4 linked regions of the Homo sapiens genome follow. The protein of the gene in region 1 interacts with the protein of each later gene in a biochemical or structural test. Each region holds a gene or a part of one and is shown on either strand. Other genes may lie near its edges.

The links. The genes of interacting proteins can lie anywhere in the genome.
Region 2: the proteins of TRPV4 (region 1) and MTMR2 interact in a test that uses a peptide from one of them, tested with the Homo sapiens proteins (one large-scale study listed by BioGRID).
Region 3: the proteins of TRPV4 (region 1) and MAP9 interact in a test that uses a peptide from one of them, tested with the Homo sapiens proteins (one large-scale study listed by BioGRID).
Region 4: the proteins of TRPV4 (region 1) and SYTL2 interact in a test that uses a peptide from one of them, tested with the Homo sapiens proteins (one large-scale study listed by BioGRID).

Annotation. Positions count from the first base shown.
Region 1 is NC_000012.12:109,830,599-109,834,678, reverse strand, and holds the start of TRPV4 (transient receptor potential cation channel subfamily V member 4), read left to right. Parts: upstream 1-1,280; 5' UTR 1,281-1,329; exon of another isoform or gene 1,330-1,331; intron 1,332-4,080. UniProt on the Homo sapiens protein: Non-selective calcium permeant cation channel involved in osmotic sensitivity and mechanosensitivity. Activation by exposure to hypotonicity within the physiological range exhibits an outward rectification.
Region 2 is NC_000011.10:95,858,108-95,861,607, reverse strand, and holds part of MTMR2 (phosphatidylinositol-3,5-bisphosphate 3-phosphatase MTMR2), read left to right. Parts: intron 1-2,975; coding exon 2,976-3,077; intron 3,078-3,500. UniProt on the Homo sapiens protein: Lipid phosphatase that specifically dephosphorylates the D-3 position of phosphatidylinositol 3-phosphate and phosphatidylinositol 3,5-bisphosphate, generating phosphatidylinositol and phosphatidylinositol 5-phosphate.
Region 3 is NC_000004.12:155,366,966-155,370,465, reverse strand, and holds part of MAP9 (microtubule-associated protein 9), read left to right. Parts: intron 1-1,653; coding exon 1,654-1,880; intron 1,881-3,500. UniProt on the Homo sapiens protein: Involved in organization of the bipolar mitotic spindle. Required for bipolar spindle assembly, mitosis progression and cytokinesis. May act by stabilizing interphase microtubules.
Region 4 is NC_000011.10:85,734,642-85,738,141, reverse strand, and holds part of SYTL2 (synaptotagmin-like protein 2), read left to right. Parts: intron 1-485; coding exon 486-567; intron 568-1,526; coding exon 1,527-1,641; intron 1,642-3,399; coding exon 3,400-3,500.

The DNA.
Region 1 (4,080 bases):
GAAGTGAGCTGCCCATCCTGTGGAGGTATTCAAGTGGACTCAGTGCTGGGTAGAGGGTATGGCTATGTGTTGGGGCCCACCTTTGTTATCTGATAAAAGAAAATACATGGGTAGGTGTGGTGGCTCATGCCTATACTCTCAGTGCTTTGGGAGACTGAAGTGGGAGGATCACTTGAGGCCAGGAGTTGTAGACCGGCTGCCCTCCCCCACCCCCCCTTCTACAAAAAAATAAAAATTAGTGGGGTGTGGTGGCGCATGCCTGTACTCCCAGCTGCTCAGGAGGCTGAGGTGGGAGGATCTCTTGAGGCCAGGAGTTTGAGGCTGTAGTGAGCCGTGATCATGCCACTGCACTTCAACCTGGGTGACAAAGGGAGAACATGTATCAAAAATAATAATAATAATAAAAAAAATAAACAAAAACGCATTGAGCCAGGCACGGTGACTCAGACCTCTAATCCCAGCACTTTGGGAGGCCGAGGTGGGTAGATCGCTTGAGCCTGGAGTTTGAGACCAGCCTAGGCAACATAGTGAGACCCTATCTCTGCAAAAAATTTAAATAAAATTAGCCAAGCATGGTGGTAGGCGTCTGTGGTCTCAGTTACTAGGGAGGCTGATACGGGAGGATTGCTTGAACGCTGGTGGTTGAGGCTGCAGTGATTCCTGATCACGCCACCGCACTCCAGCCTGGGCAACAGAGTGAGACCCTGTCTCAAAAACAACAGCAACAAAACATTGATGGCCTACTCCGAGGCAGGCTTCGCAGTAAGCACTGGGTGAAGACCAAGGAGAGCAGCTCACATTTATTTACCCCTGAACCATCTCTATGGGCCATACCCGAGGGTAGGGACCTCCTTCAACGCCTCGGAGGAAATTGTCTGCTGAATGAATGAATGAGCAAACACGTGGAGGACTGGGCCGGGACGCCCATTTAGAGACTAGGACACAGTCCCAGGGCGGCCCGAAGTCACGGAGCAAGATCGAATCGGAGCCGATTCCAACTAGAGCCCTCTCCAAAGACCGTCTGCCGCTCTATCCGGGGATCGCGACACCCATTTTCCAGGCGAGGAAACTGAGGCCCTGGCCCTGCACCTCCCCCGCAGGGGAGGCCCTCGCTGGGCGGGCGGGGTGCGAGTAGGGGCCGCCCCTTCTAGGGCCTGCGCTCGGCGGGGTCCGCGAGCCGGCGGGTGGGCGGGGAGCTGGCCGGGGGCGGCGCGCGGCTGGAACCTGAGCCGGCGGAGGAGGGACCCGCGGGCGGACGGGCGCCGGGCGGGCCGGCCGGGATTCAGGAAGCGCGGATCTCCCGGCCGCCGGCGCCCAGCCGTCCCGGAGGTAAGTGGGGCCCGGGCCCGGGAGGGGCGGCTCAGCCGAGGTCCCCTCGCGCCCCTGGGGACATCTCCGTGGCCCGTCCGGCTCCGGGGGGTCCCGAGGCTCCAAAATGCGGGCCAGGGGCGCGGGAGACGGAAGGCACCAGGTTCCGCAGGCGCCAGCCTCTCAGCTAAGTGCCCTTGGGCCGGACACCGGCTCTTTGGGTCTCGGTTTTATCACCTGTGAAATGGGCACCAACGTGGGGCCTGGGGTAGCAGGTCTGGGGGGAGGGCGGTTCGGTTCCCTGAGACCCCAAGCCAGGGAACCAAAGGCCCGGAGCCTTGCAGCCCACCTTAGGAGACTTGGAAGAGGGATTTCGGGGGACCTAAGGTTTGCCCTTGGCCCCTGAGCATGTCGGAGGGAATTTGGAGTCTGGAGCTTCCAAAGGCTTCTTCTTGGTTACTGAGTCCCGGAGAGACGGCTGTTTCCTCCAAGAGGCATGAAAATCTTTAACCTCTAGTTCTGCCCTGGACTCTCAGGACGTCCCGGGGGCGGGTGGCTCCTGGGGGTGGGTAGCGGGGGTGGGGGTGGGGGAGAGAGAGACTCCCACACTCCCCGCTTGCCTGGAAACACCAACCACAGATGCATTCATCGAGCCACCCACTGCTCCAGCCTGCCCCAGCTGTTCCCTCTGTCTGTCCTCTCTGTTTTGCAGATGGGGAAACTGAGGCTTAGGTCGGGGATCTAGACAATTGGGATTTAAACCCAGGGACTATCCAGCCCCAAAGCCCTTCCCACCACACCAGGTGGCCTGTCCTGGGGCCAGCTCTGCACACAGGGCCTGGTGCCCCCGGGGTGCTTGGGAAGTGGCAGGGCAGAGGTGGGCCCTGTGGCTGTTCTGGCTCAGCTTCTAAAACAAGAGCCTCTGCTGGGGGCAGAGGGGCCGTGAACCCCTGAAATGTTAGGCAGATACCCTGTGGGAGCTTTGTTCTGGGATGCTAAGAACCGCTTGAGGATTTAAGCTTTGCCACTTTGGCTCCGGAGCAAGGGCAGAGGGTAAGTCGGGACTCCCCGGGCTCCTGAGGAGGGTGACGAGGTGGGCTTTTGGGGGAACAAGGGTAGAAAGGTCAGGCCTGGGTTATCTGCGGGGCTAAGAGCGGGCCTGTGTGGGGCCCGGGGTGTGCTCTGCAGTCCCCTGCTGTGTGACCTTGGCCTGGTCCCTTAGCTGTCTGAGCCTTTGTGTTCTCTCCTCTGTAATACTGGGGTGCCTGAGGGCAAGCCCCCAGGGCTGTCGTGAGGACCGATGACCTTCCAGGAACCTGGCACAGCCACTGTTGGCTGCCATCAATGTTTAACCAGTTGTCGTTGCCCCAAACATTTTCTTAACAAAGAGGGTGAAAAAAGTCAATTGGCCATTTCCACATTTCTCTAGTTCATTCTGTTTGAAGAATGATGGGAACCAGAAAGCCTGGACACCCACCTTGATTGGTGAATTGCACGCGGAAGGGGTCCCAGACACAAATGGCAAATGGCAGTCATAGTTCAGGGCGGTTCACTTTGTAAGATCAAGGTGGGGCTGTTTTGAAATGGAGGTAACCAGGGAATGGTTGCCTGAACAAAAAGGGTGTGATGCCCCCAGGAGGGATGTTTCACATGAGCTCCGGTGAGGATGGCTGGGATTCCCCAGGTGAAACCCAGATACCTTATATCTGGGGAAGGGGCTGTGGAGGTTCCTCCTGCCTTATCTGGTGCCAACTGGGCCTCTGCCACTTACTCCCTCCTCCAGCAAATGCTCTCTGCAAGCTCACCTGTGCCAGCTCTGGGCTGGGCACTGGAGCAGTGAGATGCTTCCAATCCCAGCTTCGCTGTAGCCTGAGGCGTGTGAAGGCAAGAAGGATTTTCCCTTGTGGCCCCCCGGGGAGGAGCTCCCACACCTGACTTGTGAGCATCTAGCAAGGTGTGCATGGATGGCCGACGCTTAGTAAATGTATGCTGTGGAATGGATGGGGTCAGGGGAGAATGCCGTAGGGTAGGAGGACTGGCCCAGGAAGGACCCACGAGGGCTTGGTCAAGGTAGTGTTTAAGCCGCACCTTAAAGAATAAATGCAGAAGTAGAGGAAAGAGTATTCAGGCAAAGAGAATGGCACTAGCAGAGATATGACTTTTACCTGTTACCAGGTGGCTACACCTGGGGTTTATAGAGCAGAGAAATAGTTCTGTTTGTCTGGAGTTTGTGACGTGACTGGAAAGGGTGAGGGATCAGACAGGCAGGAGCTAAATCAGACCCAGAGGCCCAGAAGTCCTGCCTGGGAGTGACACGGTTGTTTGTCTGTTCTAGAAAGGTCCCTGTGGCTGCAGAGTGGGAAAGATTGGAGGAGCTCAGACAGAGAGGCTGGCCCCAAGGCTGGGGAAGTCATCCAAGCTCTGAGTGGAGAGCGGCAGCTGGAAGGAGATGTAGGAGGGAAGGAAACACACAAGACTGAGCCTCATGTGCCTGGCACATAGTAGGTGCTCAGTCAGTATCTATGGCATGGTTGTCTGAACAAATACTTTTGAGATGGTCAAAGTCCTTTGAGTTCCTTCCTCTGTTCCTAGGGGGATGGGGTCTACATGAAGTGGGTGTCTCTACTCCATGCAGGCCCTTGACCCTGCTGTCTGCCTCAGTTTCCCCCATTTGACTTTGGGAAAGACACTCCAGTCCGTTCTCCAAATTATAGGGACCCAGGTAACAGCTCCTCTTGTTGTCACAGATAGGGTCTGGGGAGCCAAGATAAC
Region 2 (3,500 bases), on another chromosome or scaffold:
TACTAAAAATACAAAAATTAACCAGGCGTGGTGGCGGGCACCTGTAATCTCAGCTATTGGGGAGGCTGAGGCAGGAGAATTGCTTGAACCTGGGAGGCGGATGTTGCAGTGAGCCAAGATAGTGCCACTGCACTCCAGCTTGGGCAACAGAGTAAGACTCTGTCTGAAATAATAATAATAATAATAATAATAATAATAATAATAACCATCTTTAATGCACATAGTACTGATAGGATACCACATAGTTCCACATTGATGATTTCACTTTGAGCCTTATAAAAATCCTGTGAGGTAGGCACAATAGACATTACTACCTTTAATTTACAAATTAGCAACATAAGGCTCTGAGCAGTTCCACTACTTCGTAGTGGAAGAACTAAATAACTAAATATGTTATATTCATCATCACCTATCTTTTCTGTTTCTAGTTCTCATAATTTTTCTTTTTTTTTTTTTTTGAGACGGAGTCTCGCTCTGTTGCCCAGGCTGGCACAATCTCAGCTCACTGCAAGCTCCGTCTCCTGGGTTCACGGGATTCTCCTGCCTCAGCCTCTCGAGTAGCTGGGACTACAGGCGCCCACCACCACGCCCAGCTAATTTTTTTTTGTATTTTTAGTAGAGATGGGGTTTCACCATGTTAGCCAGGATGGTCCCAATCTCCTGACCTCGTGATCTGCCCATCTCGGCCTCTCAAAGTGCTGGGATTACAGGCGTGAGCCACCGTGCCCGGCCAGTTTTTCTACTTCTAAAACAATAGTGTGGAAAAGTTGATATTGTAGACTTTTCTTATGTTCTTATTTACTGGCATTCTTTAAATGCGTTGATACTTGAATGAAACATAGATTGTTACATTTTTACCATTAAGTCATAGGTATTTAATTCTACGTACCACTTCTCCAGGTCACTGTTATTAAGGCCTAATTAACTAACACCCATGCACATTGAGATTCTACATCACATTGTTCCTTTCTTTTTATTCTGCCAGTGCCAAAAGAAACAGCATGTGTATAATTCAAGATACTTTGTTATGCTAATCTTAGAAGTTTTGTGACTCTGGTATTAAAGCTAATGACTTAGTAATTATTTTTGTAGTTTTCTTTTTTTTTGAGACAAGAGTCTGGCTCTGTTGCTTAGGCTGGAGTGCAGTGGCGTGATCTTGGCTTACTGCAGCCTCTGCCTCCCGGGTTCAAGTGATTCTCCTACCTCAGCCTCCTCAGTAGCTGGGATTACAGGCATATGCCACCATGCCTGGCTAATTTTTGTATTTTTGGTAGAGATGGGTTTCACCACATTGGCCAGGTTGGTGTTGAACTCCTGGCCTCAAGTGATCTGCCCGCCTTGGCCTCCCAAAGTGTTGAGATTACAGGTGTGAGCCACTGTGCCTGGCCTGTGGTTTTCCATTATAGTCAGAAGGGCTCTGTGAGTGTAATCGCTGGCAACCATGTGTCAAGCACACTGTTTCCTGATCACTTTTCTGTAGTTTAAGAGTAAGTAGTGCATAGAATATAAGACGATGTGAAAGAAGATAATTTTGAATCTTAATCATTTTAAATATAATTTCTTTCCATGGAACAGGATCGTTATCAATAAACAAAAATATTTGTAGGGCCCCTGACATGGTACTTTCAGAGAACTCTGTGGTTAACAGAATGATTCTGAGTATCTCACCTAGTTATAAAGATATTTACTGAGGGAAAACAAGATATCAGCTTAGGTTCCCGCACATGTTTATTTTAAAAGATAGTAAAGCCAGCATTCTAGTTTTGGATCATATACTGTCTTACTTATGTATTGTGGGTACACTGTAGTGGAGAGGCTTTGTGTGTGGTTCTACAAAATGAGGCATAATAAAGCTATTTTGAATTCTGCCTAGGTAAAAACATTTAAATAAAATGATCAGTCTTAAAATTATTCTTTTCTTATAAATTTTTTTTAAAAAATTTTTTGTAGAGACAAGGTCTCACTATGTTGCCCAGGCTGGCCTTGAACTTGTAACAATTCATGTTTCATTCAAGTATCAATCAATGCATTTAAAGAATGTCGGTAGATAAGAACATAGGAAAAGTCTACAATACCAATTTTTCCCCACCACTGTTTTAGAAGTAGAACACCTCAAGTGTCCCTCTTGCTTTGTCCACCCAAAGTGTTGGAATAACAGGCATGAGCCACTGTGCCTGGCCCTTGAAATTATCTTAATCCCCAGTTTTTTTCTAAGTGCTGTTAAGATACCAGTAAACCGGAACATGAATAACTGCATTCAGTCTGAGCATAGAAAACTGCTTAGGGACAAATGGAAGGGAAACTTGGTCTTTAGACCTTACTGTAGAGCCTGGATAATATAAACTAAACTATTCAGAGTTATGTGTCAGTAGATGGTGGAAGAATGTGGTTATGGAGTGAAGGAAGGAACACTTTCAGGCAGGGTTTAGTTCTATCAAGTCTACTAGTAGCAGGGGACTTAGGAAGAGAAGGTCCAATGCAAATGAACCCTGGGAAGGGATAGTTAGTAGGAAAATAATCACCAGATATAATGAACTGAAGACACGTATGAAATGTAACAACTACTAATCAGGTTTTATAAATAAAGAAATTTATGACAGAAAATGGGCTTTCACAGGGAAAGCACATATGCTGATAGTTTGTATCAGTCATGATATTAATCTTCAGATGTAATATCGTTAATCTCCAGTGGTTACATCAAATACTACCTCTTTCACTGGCCTATTTTGAGTCCATAAGCATAGGTAAATTTCCTGCCCTCTGAATTCTGCTTCATAGTAGAGTACCTTGTGTTTCTTTCAGTTTTTCCCAATAAACCATTATAATTTCCCTGTCTCCAGGAGCTGATGTCTGATTTATTTTTGTATCCCACATTCACAGATCTTAACATTTTACAAGATAGTTCCAAGTAACCTTATTTATTCATTTAAGTAAGTAGTGAACAATTATTAACTTGGTTCCTAAATCTTTTCTAGGATATTAGGAATTTACGATTTGCTCATAAACCTGAGGGGCGGACAAGAAGATCCATATTTGAGAATCTAATGAAATATGCATTTCCTGTCTCTAATAACCTGGTAAAATGTTTCCTGTCTTTGGAAAATTTGTGCTATAATTATTGATGTCGTATAAAGAAACTTGTCTAGGCTGTCTAGAATCTCTACATTTACATCCCTGCTTTGACATTTAACCAGATGTATAGTGTAAGTGTAACTTAGTCTCTTAGATCAATTTCTTTAGGTATGAAATAAAGGAAGCTGGACTAGCTGATTTCTGAGGTCCATTCCAGCACTAACATTTTATGATTATATGATCTTGCTATTCAGGGTGTTTCCATGATGAAAAGTTACCTGTTGTCTTCATTAGGATTTGTAATCTCCTTTTTAATTGGGAGCCAGTTAACACTAGCAATTTGGGAGGGAGGTAAGGGTAGGCAAACCCTGAGTTCCCACTATGTGCTTTAGACAGTGTTAGACTCCCACGTTTATATCATTTCACTT
Region 3 (3,500 bases), on another chromosome or scaffold:
TTAGCCCAGCATTTCAGAAACACAGATGACAAAATGGCTGTAGATAAGGCAGTGAAGGACAAAACCATAAAATCCGTTTTATGTTGTTTAAAGGCAGTTAAGCTTTTATTCTGTAGGATTGGATCATGGGGAGCCATTGAATAATTTTGTAGAAAGGAGTGATGTGATCTGATTTGGATTTTGTAAATATCATGGAAGCAGTGATCTAGGAAAGAGTGGATAAGGACCCGACAGCAGGGATGTAGAAAGTGGAATAAATGAGATATTTGGCAATTAGAATTGATAGGATATATTGATACTCTGGATTTAGGGGATAATAGAGGGAGGAATCTAGAGCCCTTGGATTTGGGGTTGAACATTTGGCTGGAGTTTAGGATGTAGCTAAAATTGTCAGCTACTTATAATAATACCAATTTGGTATGGTTGTGGAATCTTCTGGCAGAATCCATAAGCCCATTTTTAGGTAAATGGGAGGAAGATGTTAATTAGACCAATTTTGAAGTTGAGAAAAATGCATTTGTAGAACAATAGAAACATAAATATGTATAGCAGGTAAAATGCAGGCAAAAAATATATACATGGAAAGTCTTCCCATTGTTTCGAATACTGGATGCAAATCAGCATTTGATTCTTGATTTAAACTTAGAAGTAATGGAAAGAGTGAAATTTTAATAAATGCTAAAGAAGTTTTATGGACTCAGAACAATTAACTCATAAAAGATTCCTTCCTCTAATGAGAGTTAGCACTCCTATCCCTTGAGTGCCAACATCATCATCTTTGTCCTTATAATAGCACTTATAATCTTAGTAATCTAGTCTTGTAATTTTGTTTAGAAAAATCAACCTGTAAAGTACCTGGACAGGTCCATTGCCGCTTTGTTGATTATGAGGTTTAGTAACGTGTACAGGGCTTGGTACTCAAAGGCTTGATGGATGAGCCTCCTCATTTTATAGTGGTAGAAACTGGGGCAAGATTTTGTTTTGTTTTTTTATTTTTAACATTTTTTTTTTAATATTATAAGAGTTCACAATGTTGAAGAGTTAACTTCTTGTGACTGGTTACTTTCAGGATGACAACTGTTTCTTTACTTTGTTTTTTTTTTGTTGTTGTTGTTGTTTGGTTTTTTTTTTTTTTTTAGATGGATTTTTGCTCTTATTACCCAGGCTGGAGTGCAGTGGTGTGATCTCGATCTCGGCTCACTGCAACCTCAGACTCCTGGGTTCAAGCAATCCTCCTGCCTCAGTCTCCTGAGTAGCTGGGATTACAGGCACGCGCTACTAAGCCCGGCTAATTTTTTTGTATTTTTAGTAGAGACAGGGTTTCACCGTGTTAGCCAGGCTGGTCTCGAACTCCTGACCTCATGATCTGCCCACCTCGGCCTCCCAACGTGCTGGGATTACAGGCGTGAGTCACCGCTCCCAACATGTCGGGATCACAGGCGTGAGCCACCGCGTCCGGCCTGATTATTAACCATCATTTATTTGTGCCTTACTAGAGCTCTGTATAGAGAAGAGTTGTGGGCTTCATCTGGACTCTTCAGGACAGAGAACAAAGGGGCATAGGCACAGGAGGGAAGTATGGTAGCACCCAGAGAGATAGATAAAGCCATGGTCATTTTTTTATACACACACTTTAAGCATTTTATTTTTCAGCAGAAAACAACAGCCTTGACACAGATGATCACTTTAAACCATCACCTCGGCCAAGGAGTATGTTGAAAAAGAAAAGTCACATGGAGGAGAAGGATGGACTAGAAGATAAAGAAACTGCCCTCAGTGAAGAATTGGAGTTACATTCTGCACCTTCTTCCCTTCCAACGCCGAATGGCATACAATTAGAAGCTGAGAAAAAAGCATTCTCTGAAAACCTTGATCCTGAGGTTAGCACTACCACTAAACTGTTGAATTGTGTTCTTGAATTTATGCTTTTTTATCTGATTATGAAAAAGAGAAGGAGAGAATGAATTTGTGTGCGTGTGTGTGTGTTTTACATACTTTCTTCTGCAACTGATAAGGAAATAATTTTTAAAAATACACTGTATTCCACCGAGTCTAAAACTGCATCAATTGTAAGACGTAGCATTATTTTACATACCACTAAGGAAGAAGGAAATGCATCCAATTAAACTATAACACACCAGTGATTGTAGAGTTTATCCAGTTTTAGAGAAAGTAAAATGTCAAAAAGTGTTGCTTTTCTGAATCTATATAATAGTGTTTATCTTTAATAATTTTTTAAATTTATGTATCTTTGAATTATGTAATTTATGGCTAAGAACAATATAGTCAGTGTCATTTTATTTATTTGATTTTATTCACTCAACAAATGTGTGTTGAATGTTCATGGCACTCTTCTGTGTTCTTTGGGTTATGTTCCAATAGCATTAAATGTGGCCTTTCAGGTTTCCATCAGGGAATTTACTATGCATTGTTATTAAGGGAGAACACTTCGTTTTTCTCTTTGTATTTCACTATGAGAAGCAAACTGTCCCTTCTGAACATTTCAGAAGGGAAAAGTACAGGAAGAACATTTCTTCCCCATAATCTGCTTGGGCAGATTAGGGAACTGCATGCCACCTGGCCAAGCTTCTTTCTTTTTCTCATCGCTTGTCTGCAGTGTTGGTGCTTAAGGATCTGCTCTCTGGGAGGTGAGGCAGAAGGTGCTGAGAGGAGCTCTTTTGTGCAATGACTAAATGGGGGAATCCCCCTAATTCAGACTGGAAGTATTAGGAAGCACAATAGGCTACCAATTCAAATCTTGTTCTGCAGTTGAGCTTTACCAGTAAAGCTGACAATTTGATATACGCCTAACTGACACCACCATGCTGTTTCTTAATTTGTTCTGAAAACCAGAAGAAGAAACCCAAGCAAATACTTTATATTTAAGAAAATTATCTGATCCATTGAATATTGTGCTAGTTTCTTGTAGCTGCTGTAACAAATTGCCACAAACTGGTTAACTTAAAACAACAGAAATGTATTCTCTTAGTTCTGGAGGTCAGAAGTCCAAGATCAAGGTGTTTGCAGGGCCATTTTCCTCTGAAGGCATCACGGAAGAATCCTTCCTTGCCTCTTCCAGCTTCTTTCTAGTGGTTGCCAGCAGTCCATGGCATTCCTTGGCTTGTAGCTGGCTTGTAGCTGCATCATTCCCTTCTCTGCCTTCATCCCATGTGGCCTTCTTCCCTGTGTTTTCTCTGCATGTCTGTGTCTCTTCTTTCTCTTAAAAAAAGACACCAGGCATTGGATTTAGGGCCCACCCTAATTGAGTGTGTCCTCATCTTATCTATTTAAAGCTGTAAACACCTTATTTCCTAAGAAAGTCGTATTTTGAGGTTCTGGATGAACATGAATTTTGGGGCATTAATGTTCGTATGTTAAACCTAGCATTCCCGGGATAAACTCTGGTTAGTCATGGTGTGATATTTTATTGTGGGATGTGATTTGTTAAAATTGTGTTAAGGTTTGCATCTATATTTATGAAGTCTATTGGTCTGTAATTT
Region 4 (3,500 bases), on another chromosome or scaffold:
TTACTTCATGGGGAAAAGCAGGAATCTTACCCCTACCTCCACAAACTAAGGTGTTTTCCAAGCTCCTGACTCTGTGATGCCACTGAGAGAACTGGTGGTGGTAACAGGACACGAAGGCTTCAGCCAATAGCAACTTCACCTCCTGTGCCTGAGGCAAGACCACTGGAACAGGAAGTCTGAGCAGGTTGTTCCTCTCCCCACCCAGGGCCTCCGTGACCCTCTTTTGCCCTTCTCAATCAACAGTCAAGGGTGTGGTGGTTCTGGAGGGAGCCTGCTCACTTCACTTGTCTCCACTCACTCTTGCCTTACTCTCACTCTGGTGCTGTCCTGTCCCTGGGATAGGGAATAATTCTCTAGAGAATCCTTCTTATTCTTCTGCACCAGCTTCCTCTCCTAGCCTGCTGATAGCTTTCCACTTCAGAGGCATAATTTATGATTCCTCAAAAGGTGAGGTTTTATTCTCTGAATTATTGTTTCTTTTGCAGTTCCAGTGTGGTAAATCCAGCTTCCAGTGTGATTGATATGTCCCAGGAAAACACAAGGAAACCAAATGTGTCTCCAGAGAAGGTAGACTGAGCCCAGATTTTGAAAATCTTGTATTTGTTAGGAATGCCATTTTTCCTCATTGTGTCAAAGCACCACAAAATAAAGAGAATTTTGTAGTACAGTTTTTTGGTACCAAATACAGGTAATTTTCACTATTTTAAGAAGTCACTAGTTTAAGAAGTCACTCTCATGGTGGAAAAAGTGGATGGATACCATGTCATTGCATTGCTGAAGACCCAGATTTCTTGCCCTAGAGGGTAAAAAGTCTGAAGCTATTTGGTGCTGCTGCTTTTTAGCATATGGAATAAGGCTTGTTAGTTCCATGTCAGTCCTTATTCCTATATTCCTATGCATAGCTTCCTAAATCTCTGTTAGAGATCTGCTTCTGGGAGAGAATTGCTAATTTATTAAACTATAGACAGTAAACATTGTTATTGATTCCTATATTAATTTTTAAAACCTCTATTGATACCATTTTTATCATTAGAATTGATGATAATAATAATGACTATGAAGCACTTCAAGATACCTAAAATGTCTCCAAAATCTTTAGGAAAGGTCAATTACAGTTGTATTTTGTACACTTGTGATCTAGCACACTGAGAGTCTGGTATGGTAGAAGAATCACTGGTGGGACTCTGACCTGATTAGAGACCCAAGTTTCCTTTGACCTTGATCTGGTCTTTGCTATATCCGGGGCCAAGTTTTTTCACCTGTAAAATGTGGGATTTTGATTTAAGTGTCTGATTCTGAGCTAACTTTGTAGGACTCTGGCTTTGCATATATTTTATATAATTTTTAAATGGCATATATGGTAACTCTGTGCTAAGCAGATTAATCAGGACAACTGTTTTTCAAACATGCCAAATAATGGAGTTTATGGGATAAAACTATCAAAATTGAAGATAATAGGCATTTGCCAACACTGAGTTGCTGTCATGACATTTAAAATAAGTTTAATAAACAATATTTGTCCCCAGCAGAGGAAGAATCCGTTTAATAGCTCCAAGTTGCCAGAAGGTCACTCATCACAACAAACTAAAAATGAACAGTCAAAAAATGGAAGAACTGGTTTATTTCAGACTTCAAAAGAGGGTAAATATTATTTTTATGAACTTGATTTTTTTATCTTTGTTATCTGTGGACTAAGGGAAATTCTCAGAGTTCCTTTTGCTCAAATAACTTCCAAGAGAAAGTGAAAAGTCCTGATGGTTTTCTTATTTTACGGTGCTTGTTGGTTTCCTTCCTGAGGGAGAGGAAGCAGAAATTTGAGAAACTGATAGCTCACGCATTCCAGTCTCAGAGCTGTGACTTGTTACGTGACTTCCATTGTGTCTTGGATTCCCTCATCAGTAAATTGGGAGATTTTTTGACCCAAGACATTCAGTCTTCCACTTAACAGTATTTATTAGATGCCTACTGTGTGTTCACAAAGTTCTGTTTAAAAGGGCTTGCCTCAAGAAGAAAAAGCCTGTTGACAATGTTATGATCCTCTAATCTGTAATTCTCAGCCCAGCCGCCCAAAAGCGTTTGATCAGGTTTGTGGCTCAATTGATGTAAGTCAGCCTGCTATGGAATTTTATCATTTTTATATACTGTTAAGAGGAAATGCTAAACATTTCAATCTCTTCAAAAGCAACTTGAAGAAGATTCCACAAGCATTAAAGAGTGGTTAGGGGTAGAAAATTAAAAAACAGTGGAGCTGGGGTTTTCAATTAGCCTGTCTGAATATTAAAATACTTTCCACTGGGCACGTTTTAGATTACATAAAATATTTTGTAGAAGAAAATCACTGGAACATGTTAGATGTTTGTTTTTAACTTTTCTTTTTTTTTTTTGGCCATGGAGTCCCACTCTATTGCCCAGGCTGGAGTGCAGTGGTGCAATCTCGGCTCACTGCACCCTTCGCCTCCCGGGTTCCGGGGCTTCTAGTGCCTCAGCCTTCTGAGTAGCTGGGACTACAGGCGTGCTCTACCACACCCGCCTAATTTTTGTATTTTTAGTAGAAATGAGGTTTCACCCTTTTGGCCAGGCTGGTCTCAAACTCCTGGACTCAAGTGATCCACCCACCTCGGCTTCCCAAAGTGCTGGGATTACAGGTGTGAGCCACTGCGCTTGGCCTGTTTTTAACTTTCTGACAAAAATAAATTTTGTGTTAGGTAATGGGGTTTTATTTTTTTAAACTGAATTTCCTTTTCTGATTTCTGCAGGTGAATTTAAGTGACTTCTATGTTTTTCTTTAAGCCTCTTTTGAGAAATTTTCTTTTCATTCTTAAAAAAACTTTCTGTATTGGGTGTAAAATAATCACAAACTATATAAAGCACAGTAATCTTAAATGTACAGTGCAATGAAGTTTATACATGATTTTTCGAATAGACGTTATTTTTTAGAGCAGTTTTAGGTTCACAATATTGAGCAAAAGATACAGACGTTTTCCATATACACCCTCTCCCCACACAGGCATAGCCTCCCTCATTATCAACATTCCTCATGAGAATGGTACATTTGTTACACGTGATGAACCACATTGAGACATCACTATCACCCAAAGTACATCGTTTACATCAGGGTTCACTCTTCATGGTGTACATTCTATGGGTTTAGACAAAAGTATAATAGTGTGCGGCCACCATTGTAGTGTCATAGAGTAGTTCCAGTGCCCTAAAAGTCCTCTGTGCTCCAATGCATGAATTTTTAAAAGCTTTTCACATTAGGCCTGTAGTTGTGCCACATACTTTACTGTCTTTAATATTTTAATAGTTTCACTAAGTGTAGGTTAAGTTTATGACAGGTATTTTAAATTATATATTACTCTCTATATGATATATCACCTACTGTGTTTTAATTTTCAGATGAATTGTCAGAGTCAAAAGAAAAGTCAACTGTCGCAGATACTTCAATCCAAAAGTTAGAGAAATCAAAGCAGACTTTGCCAGGCCTTTCAAATGGGTCC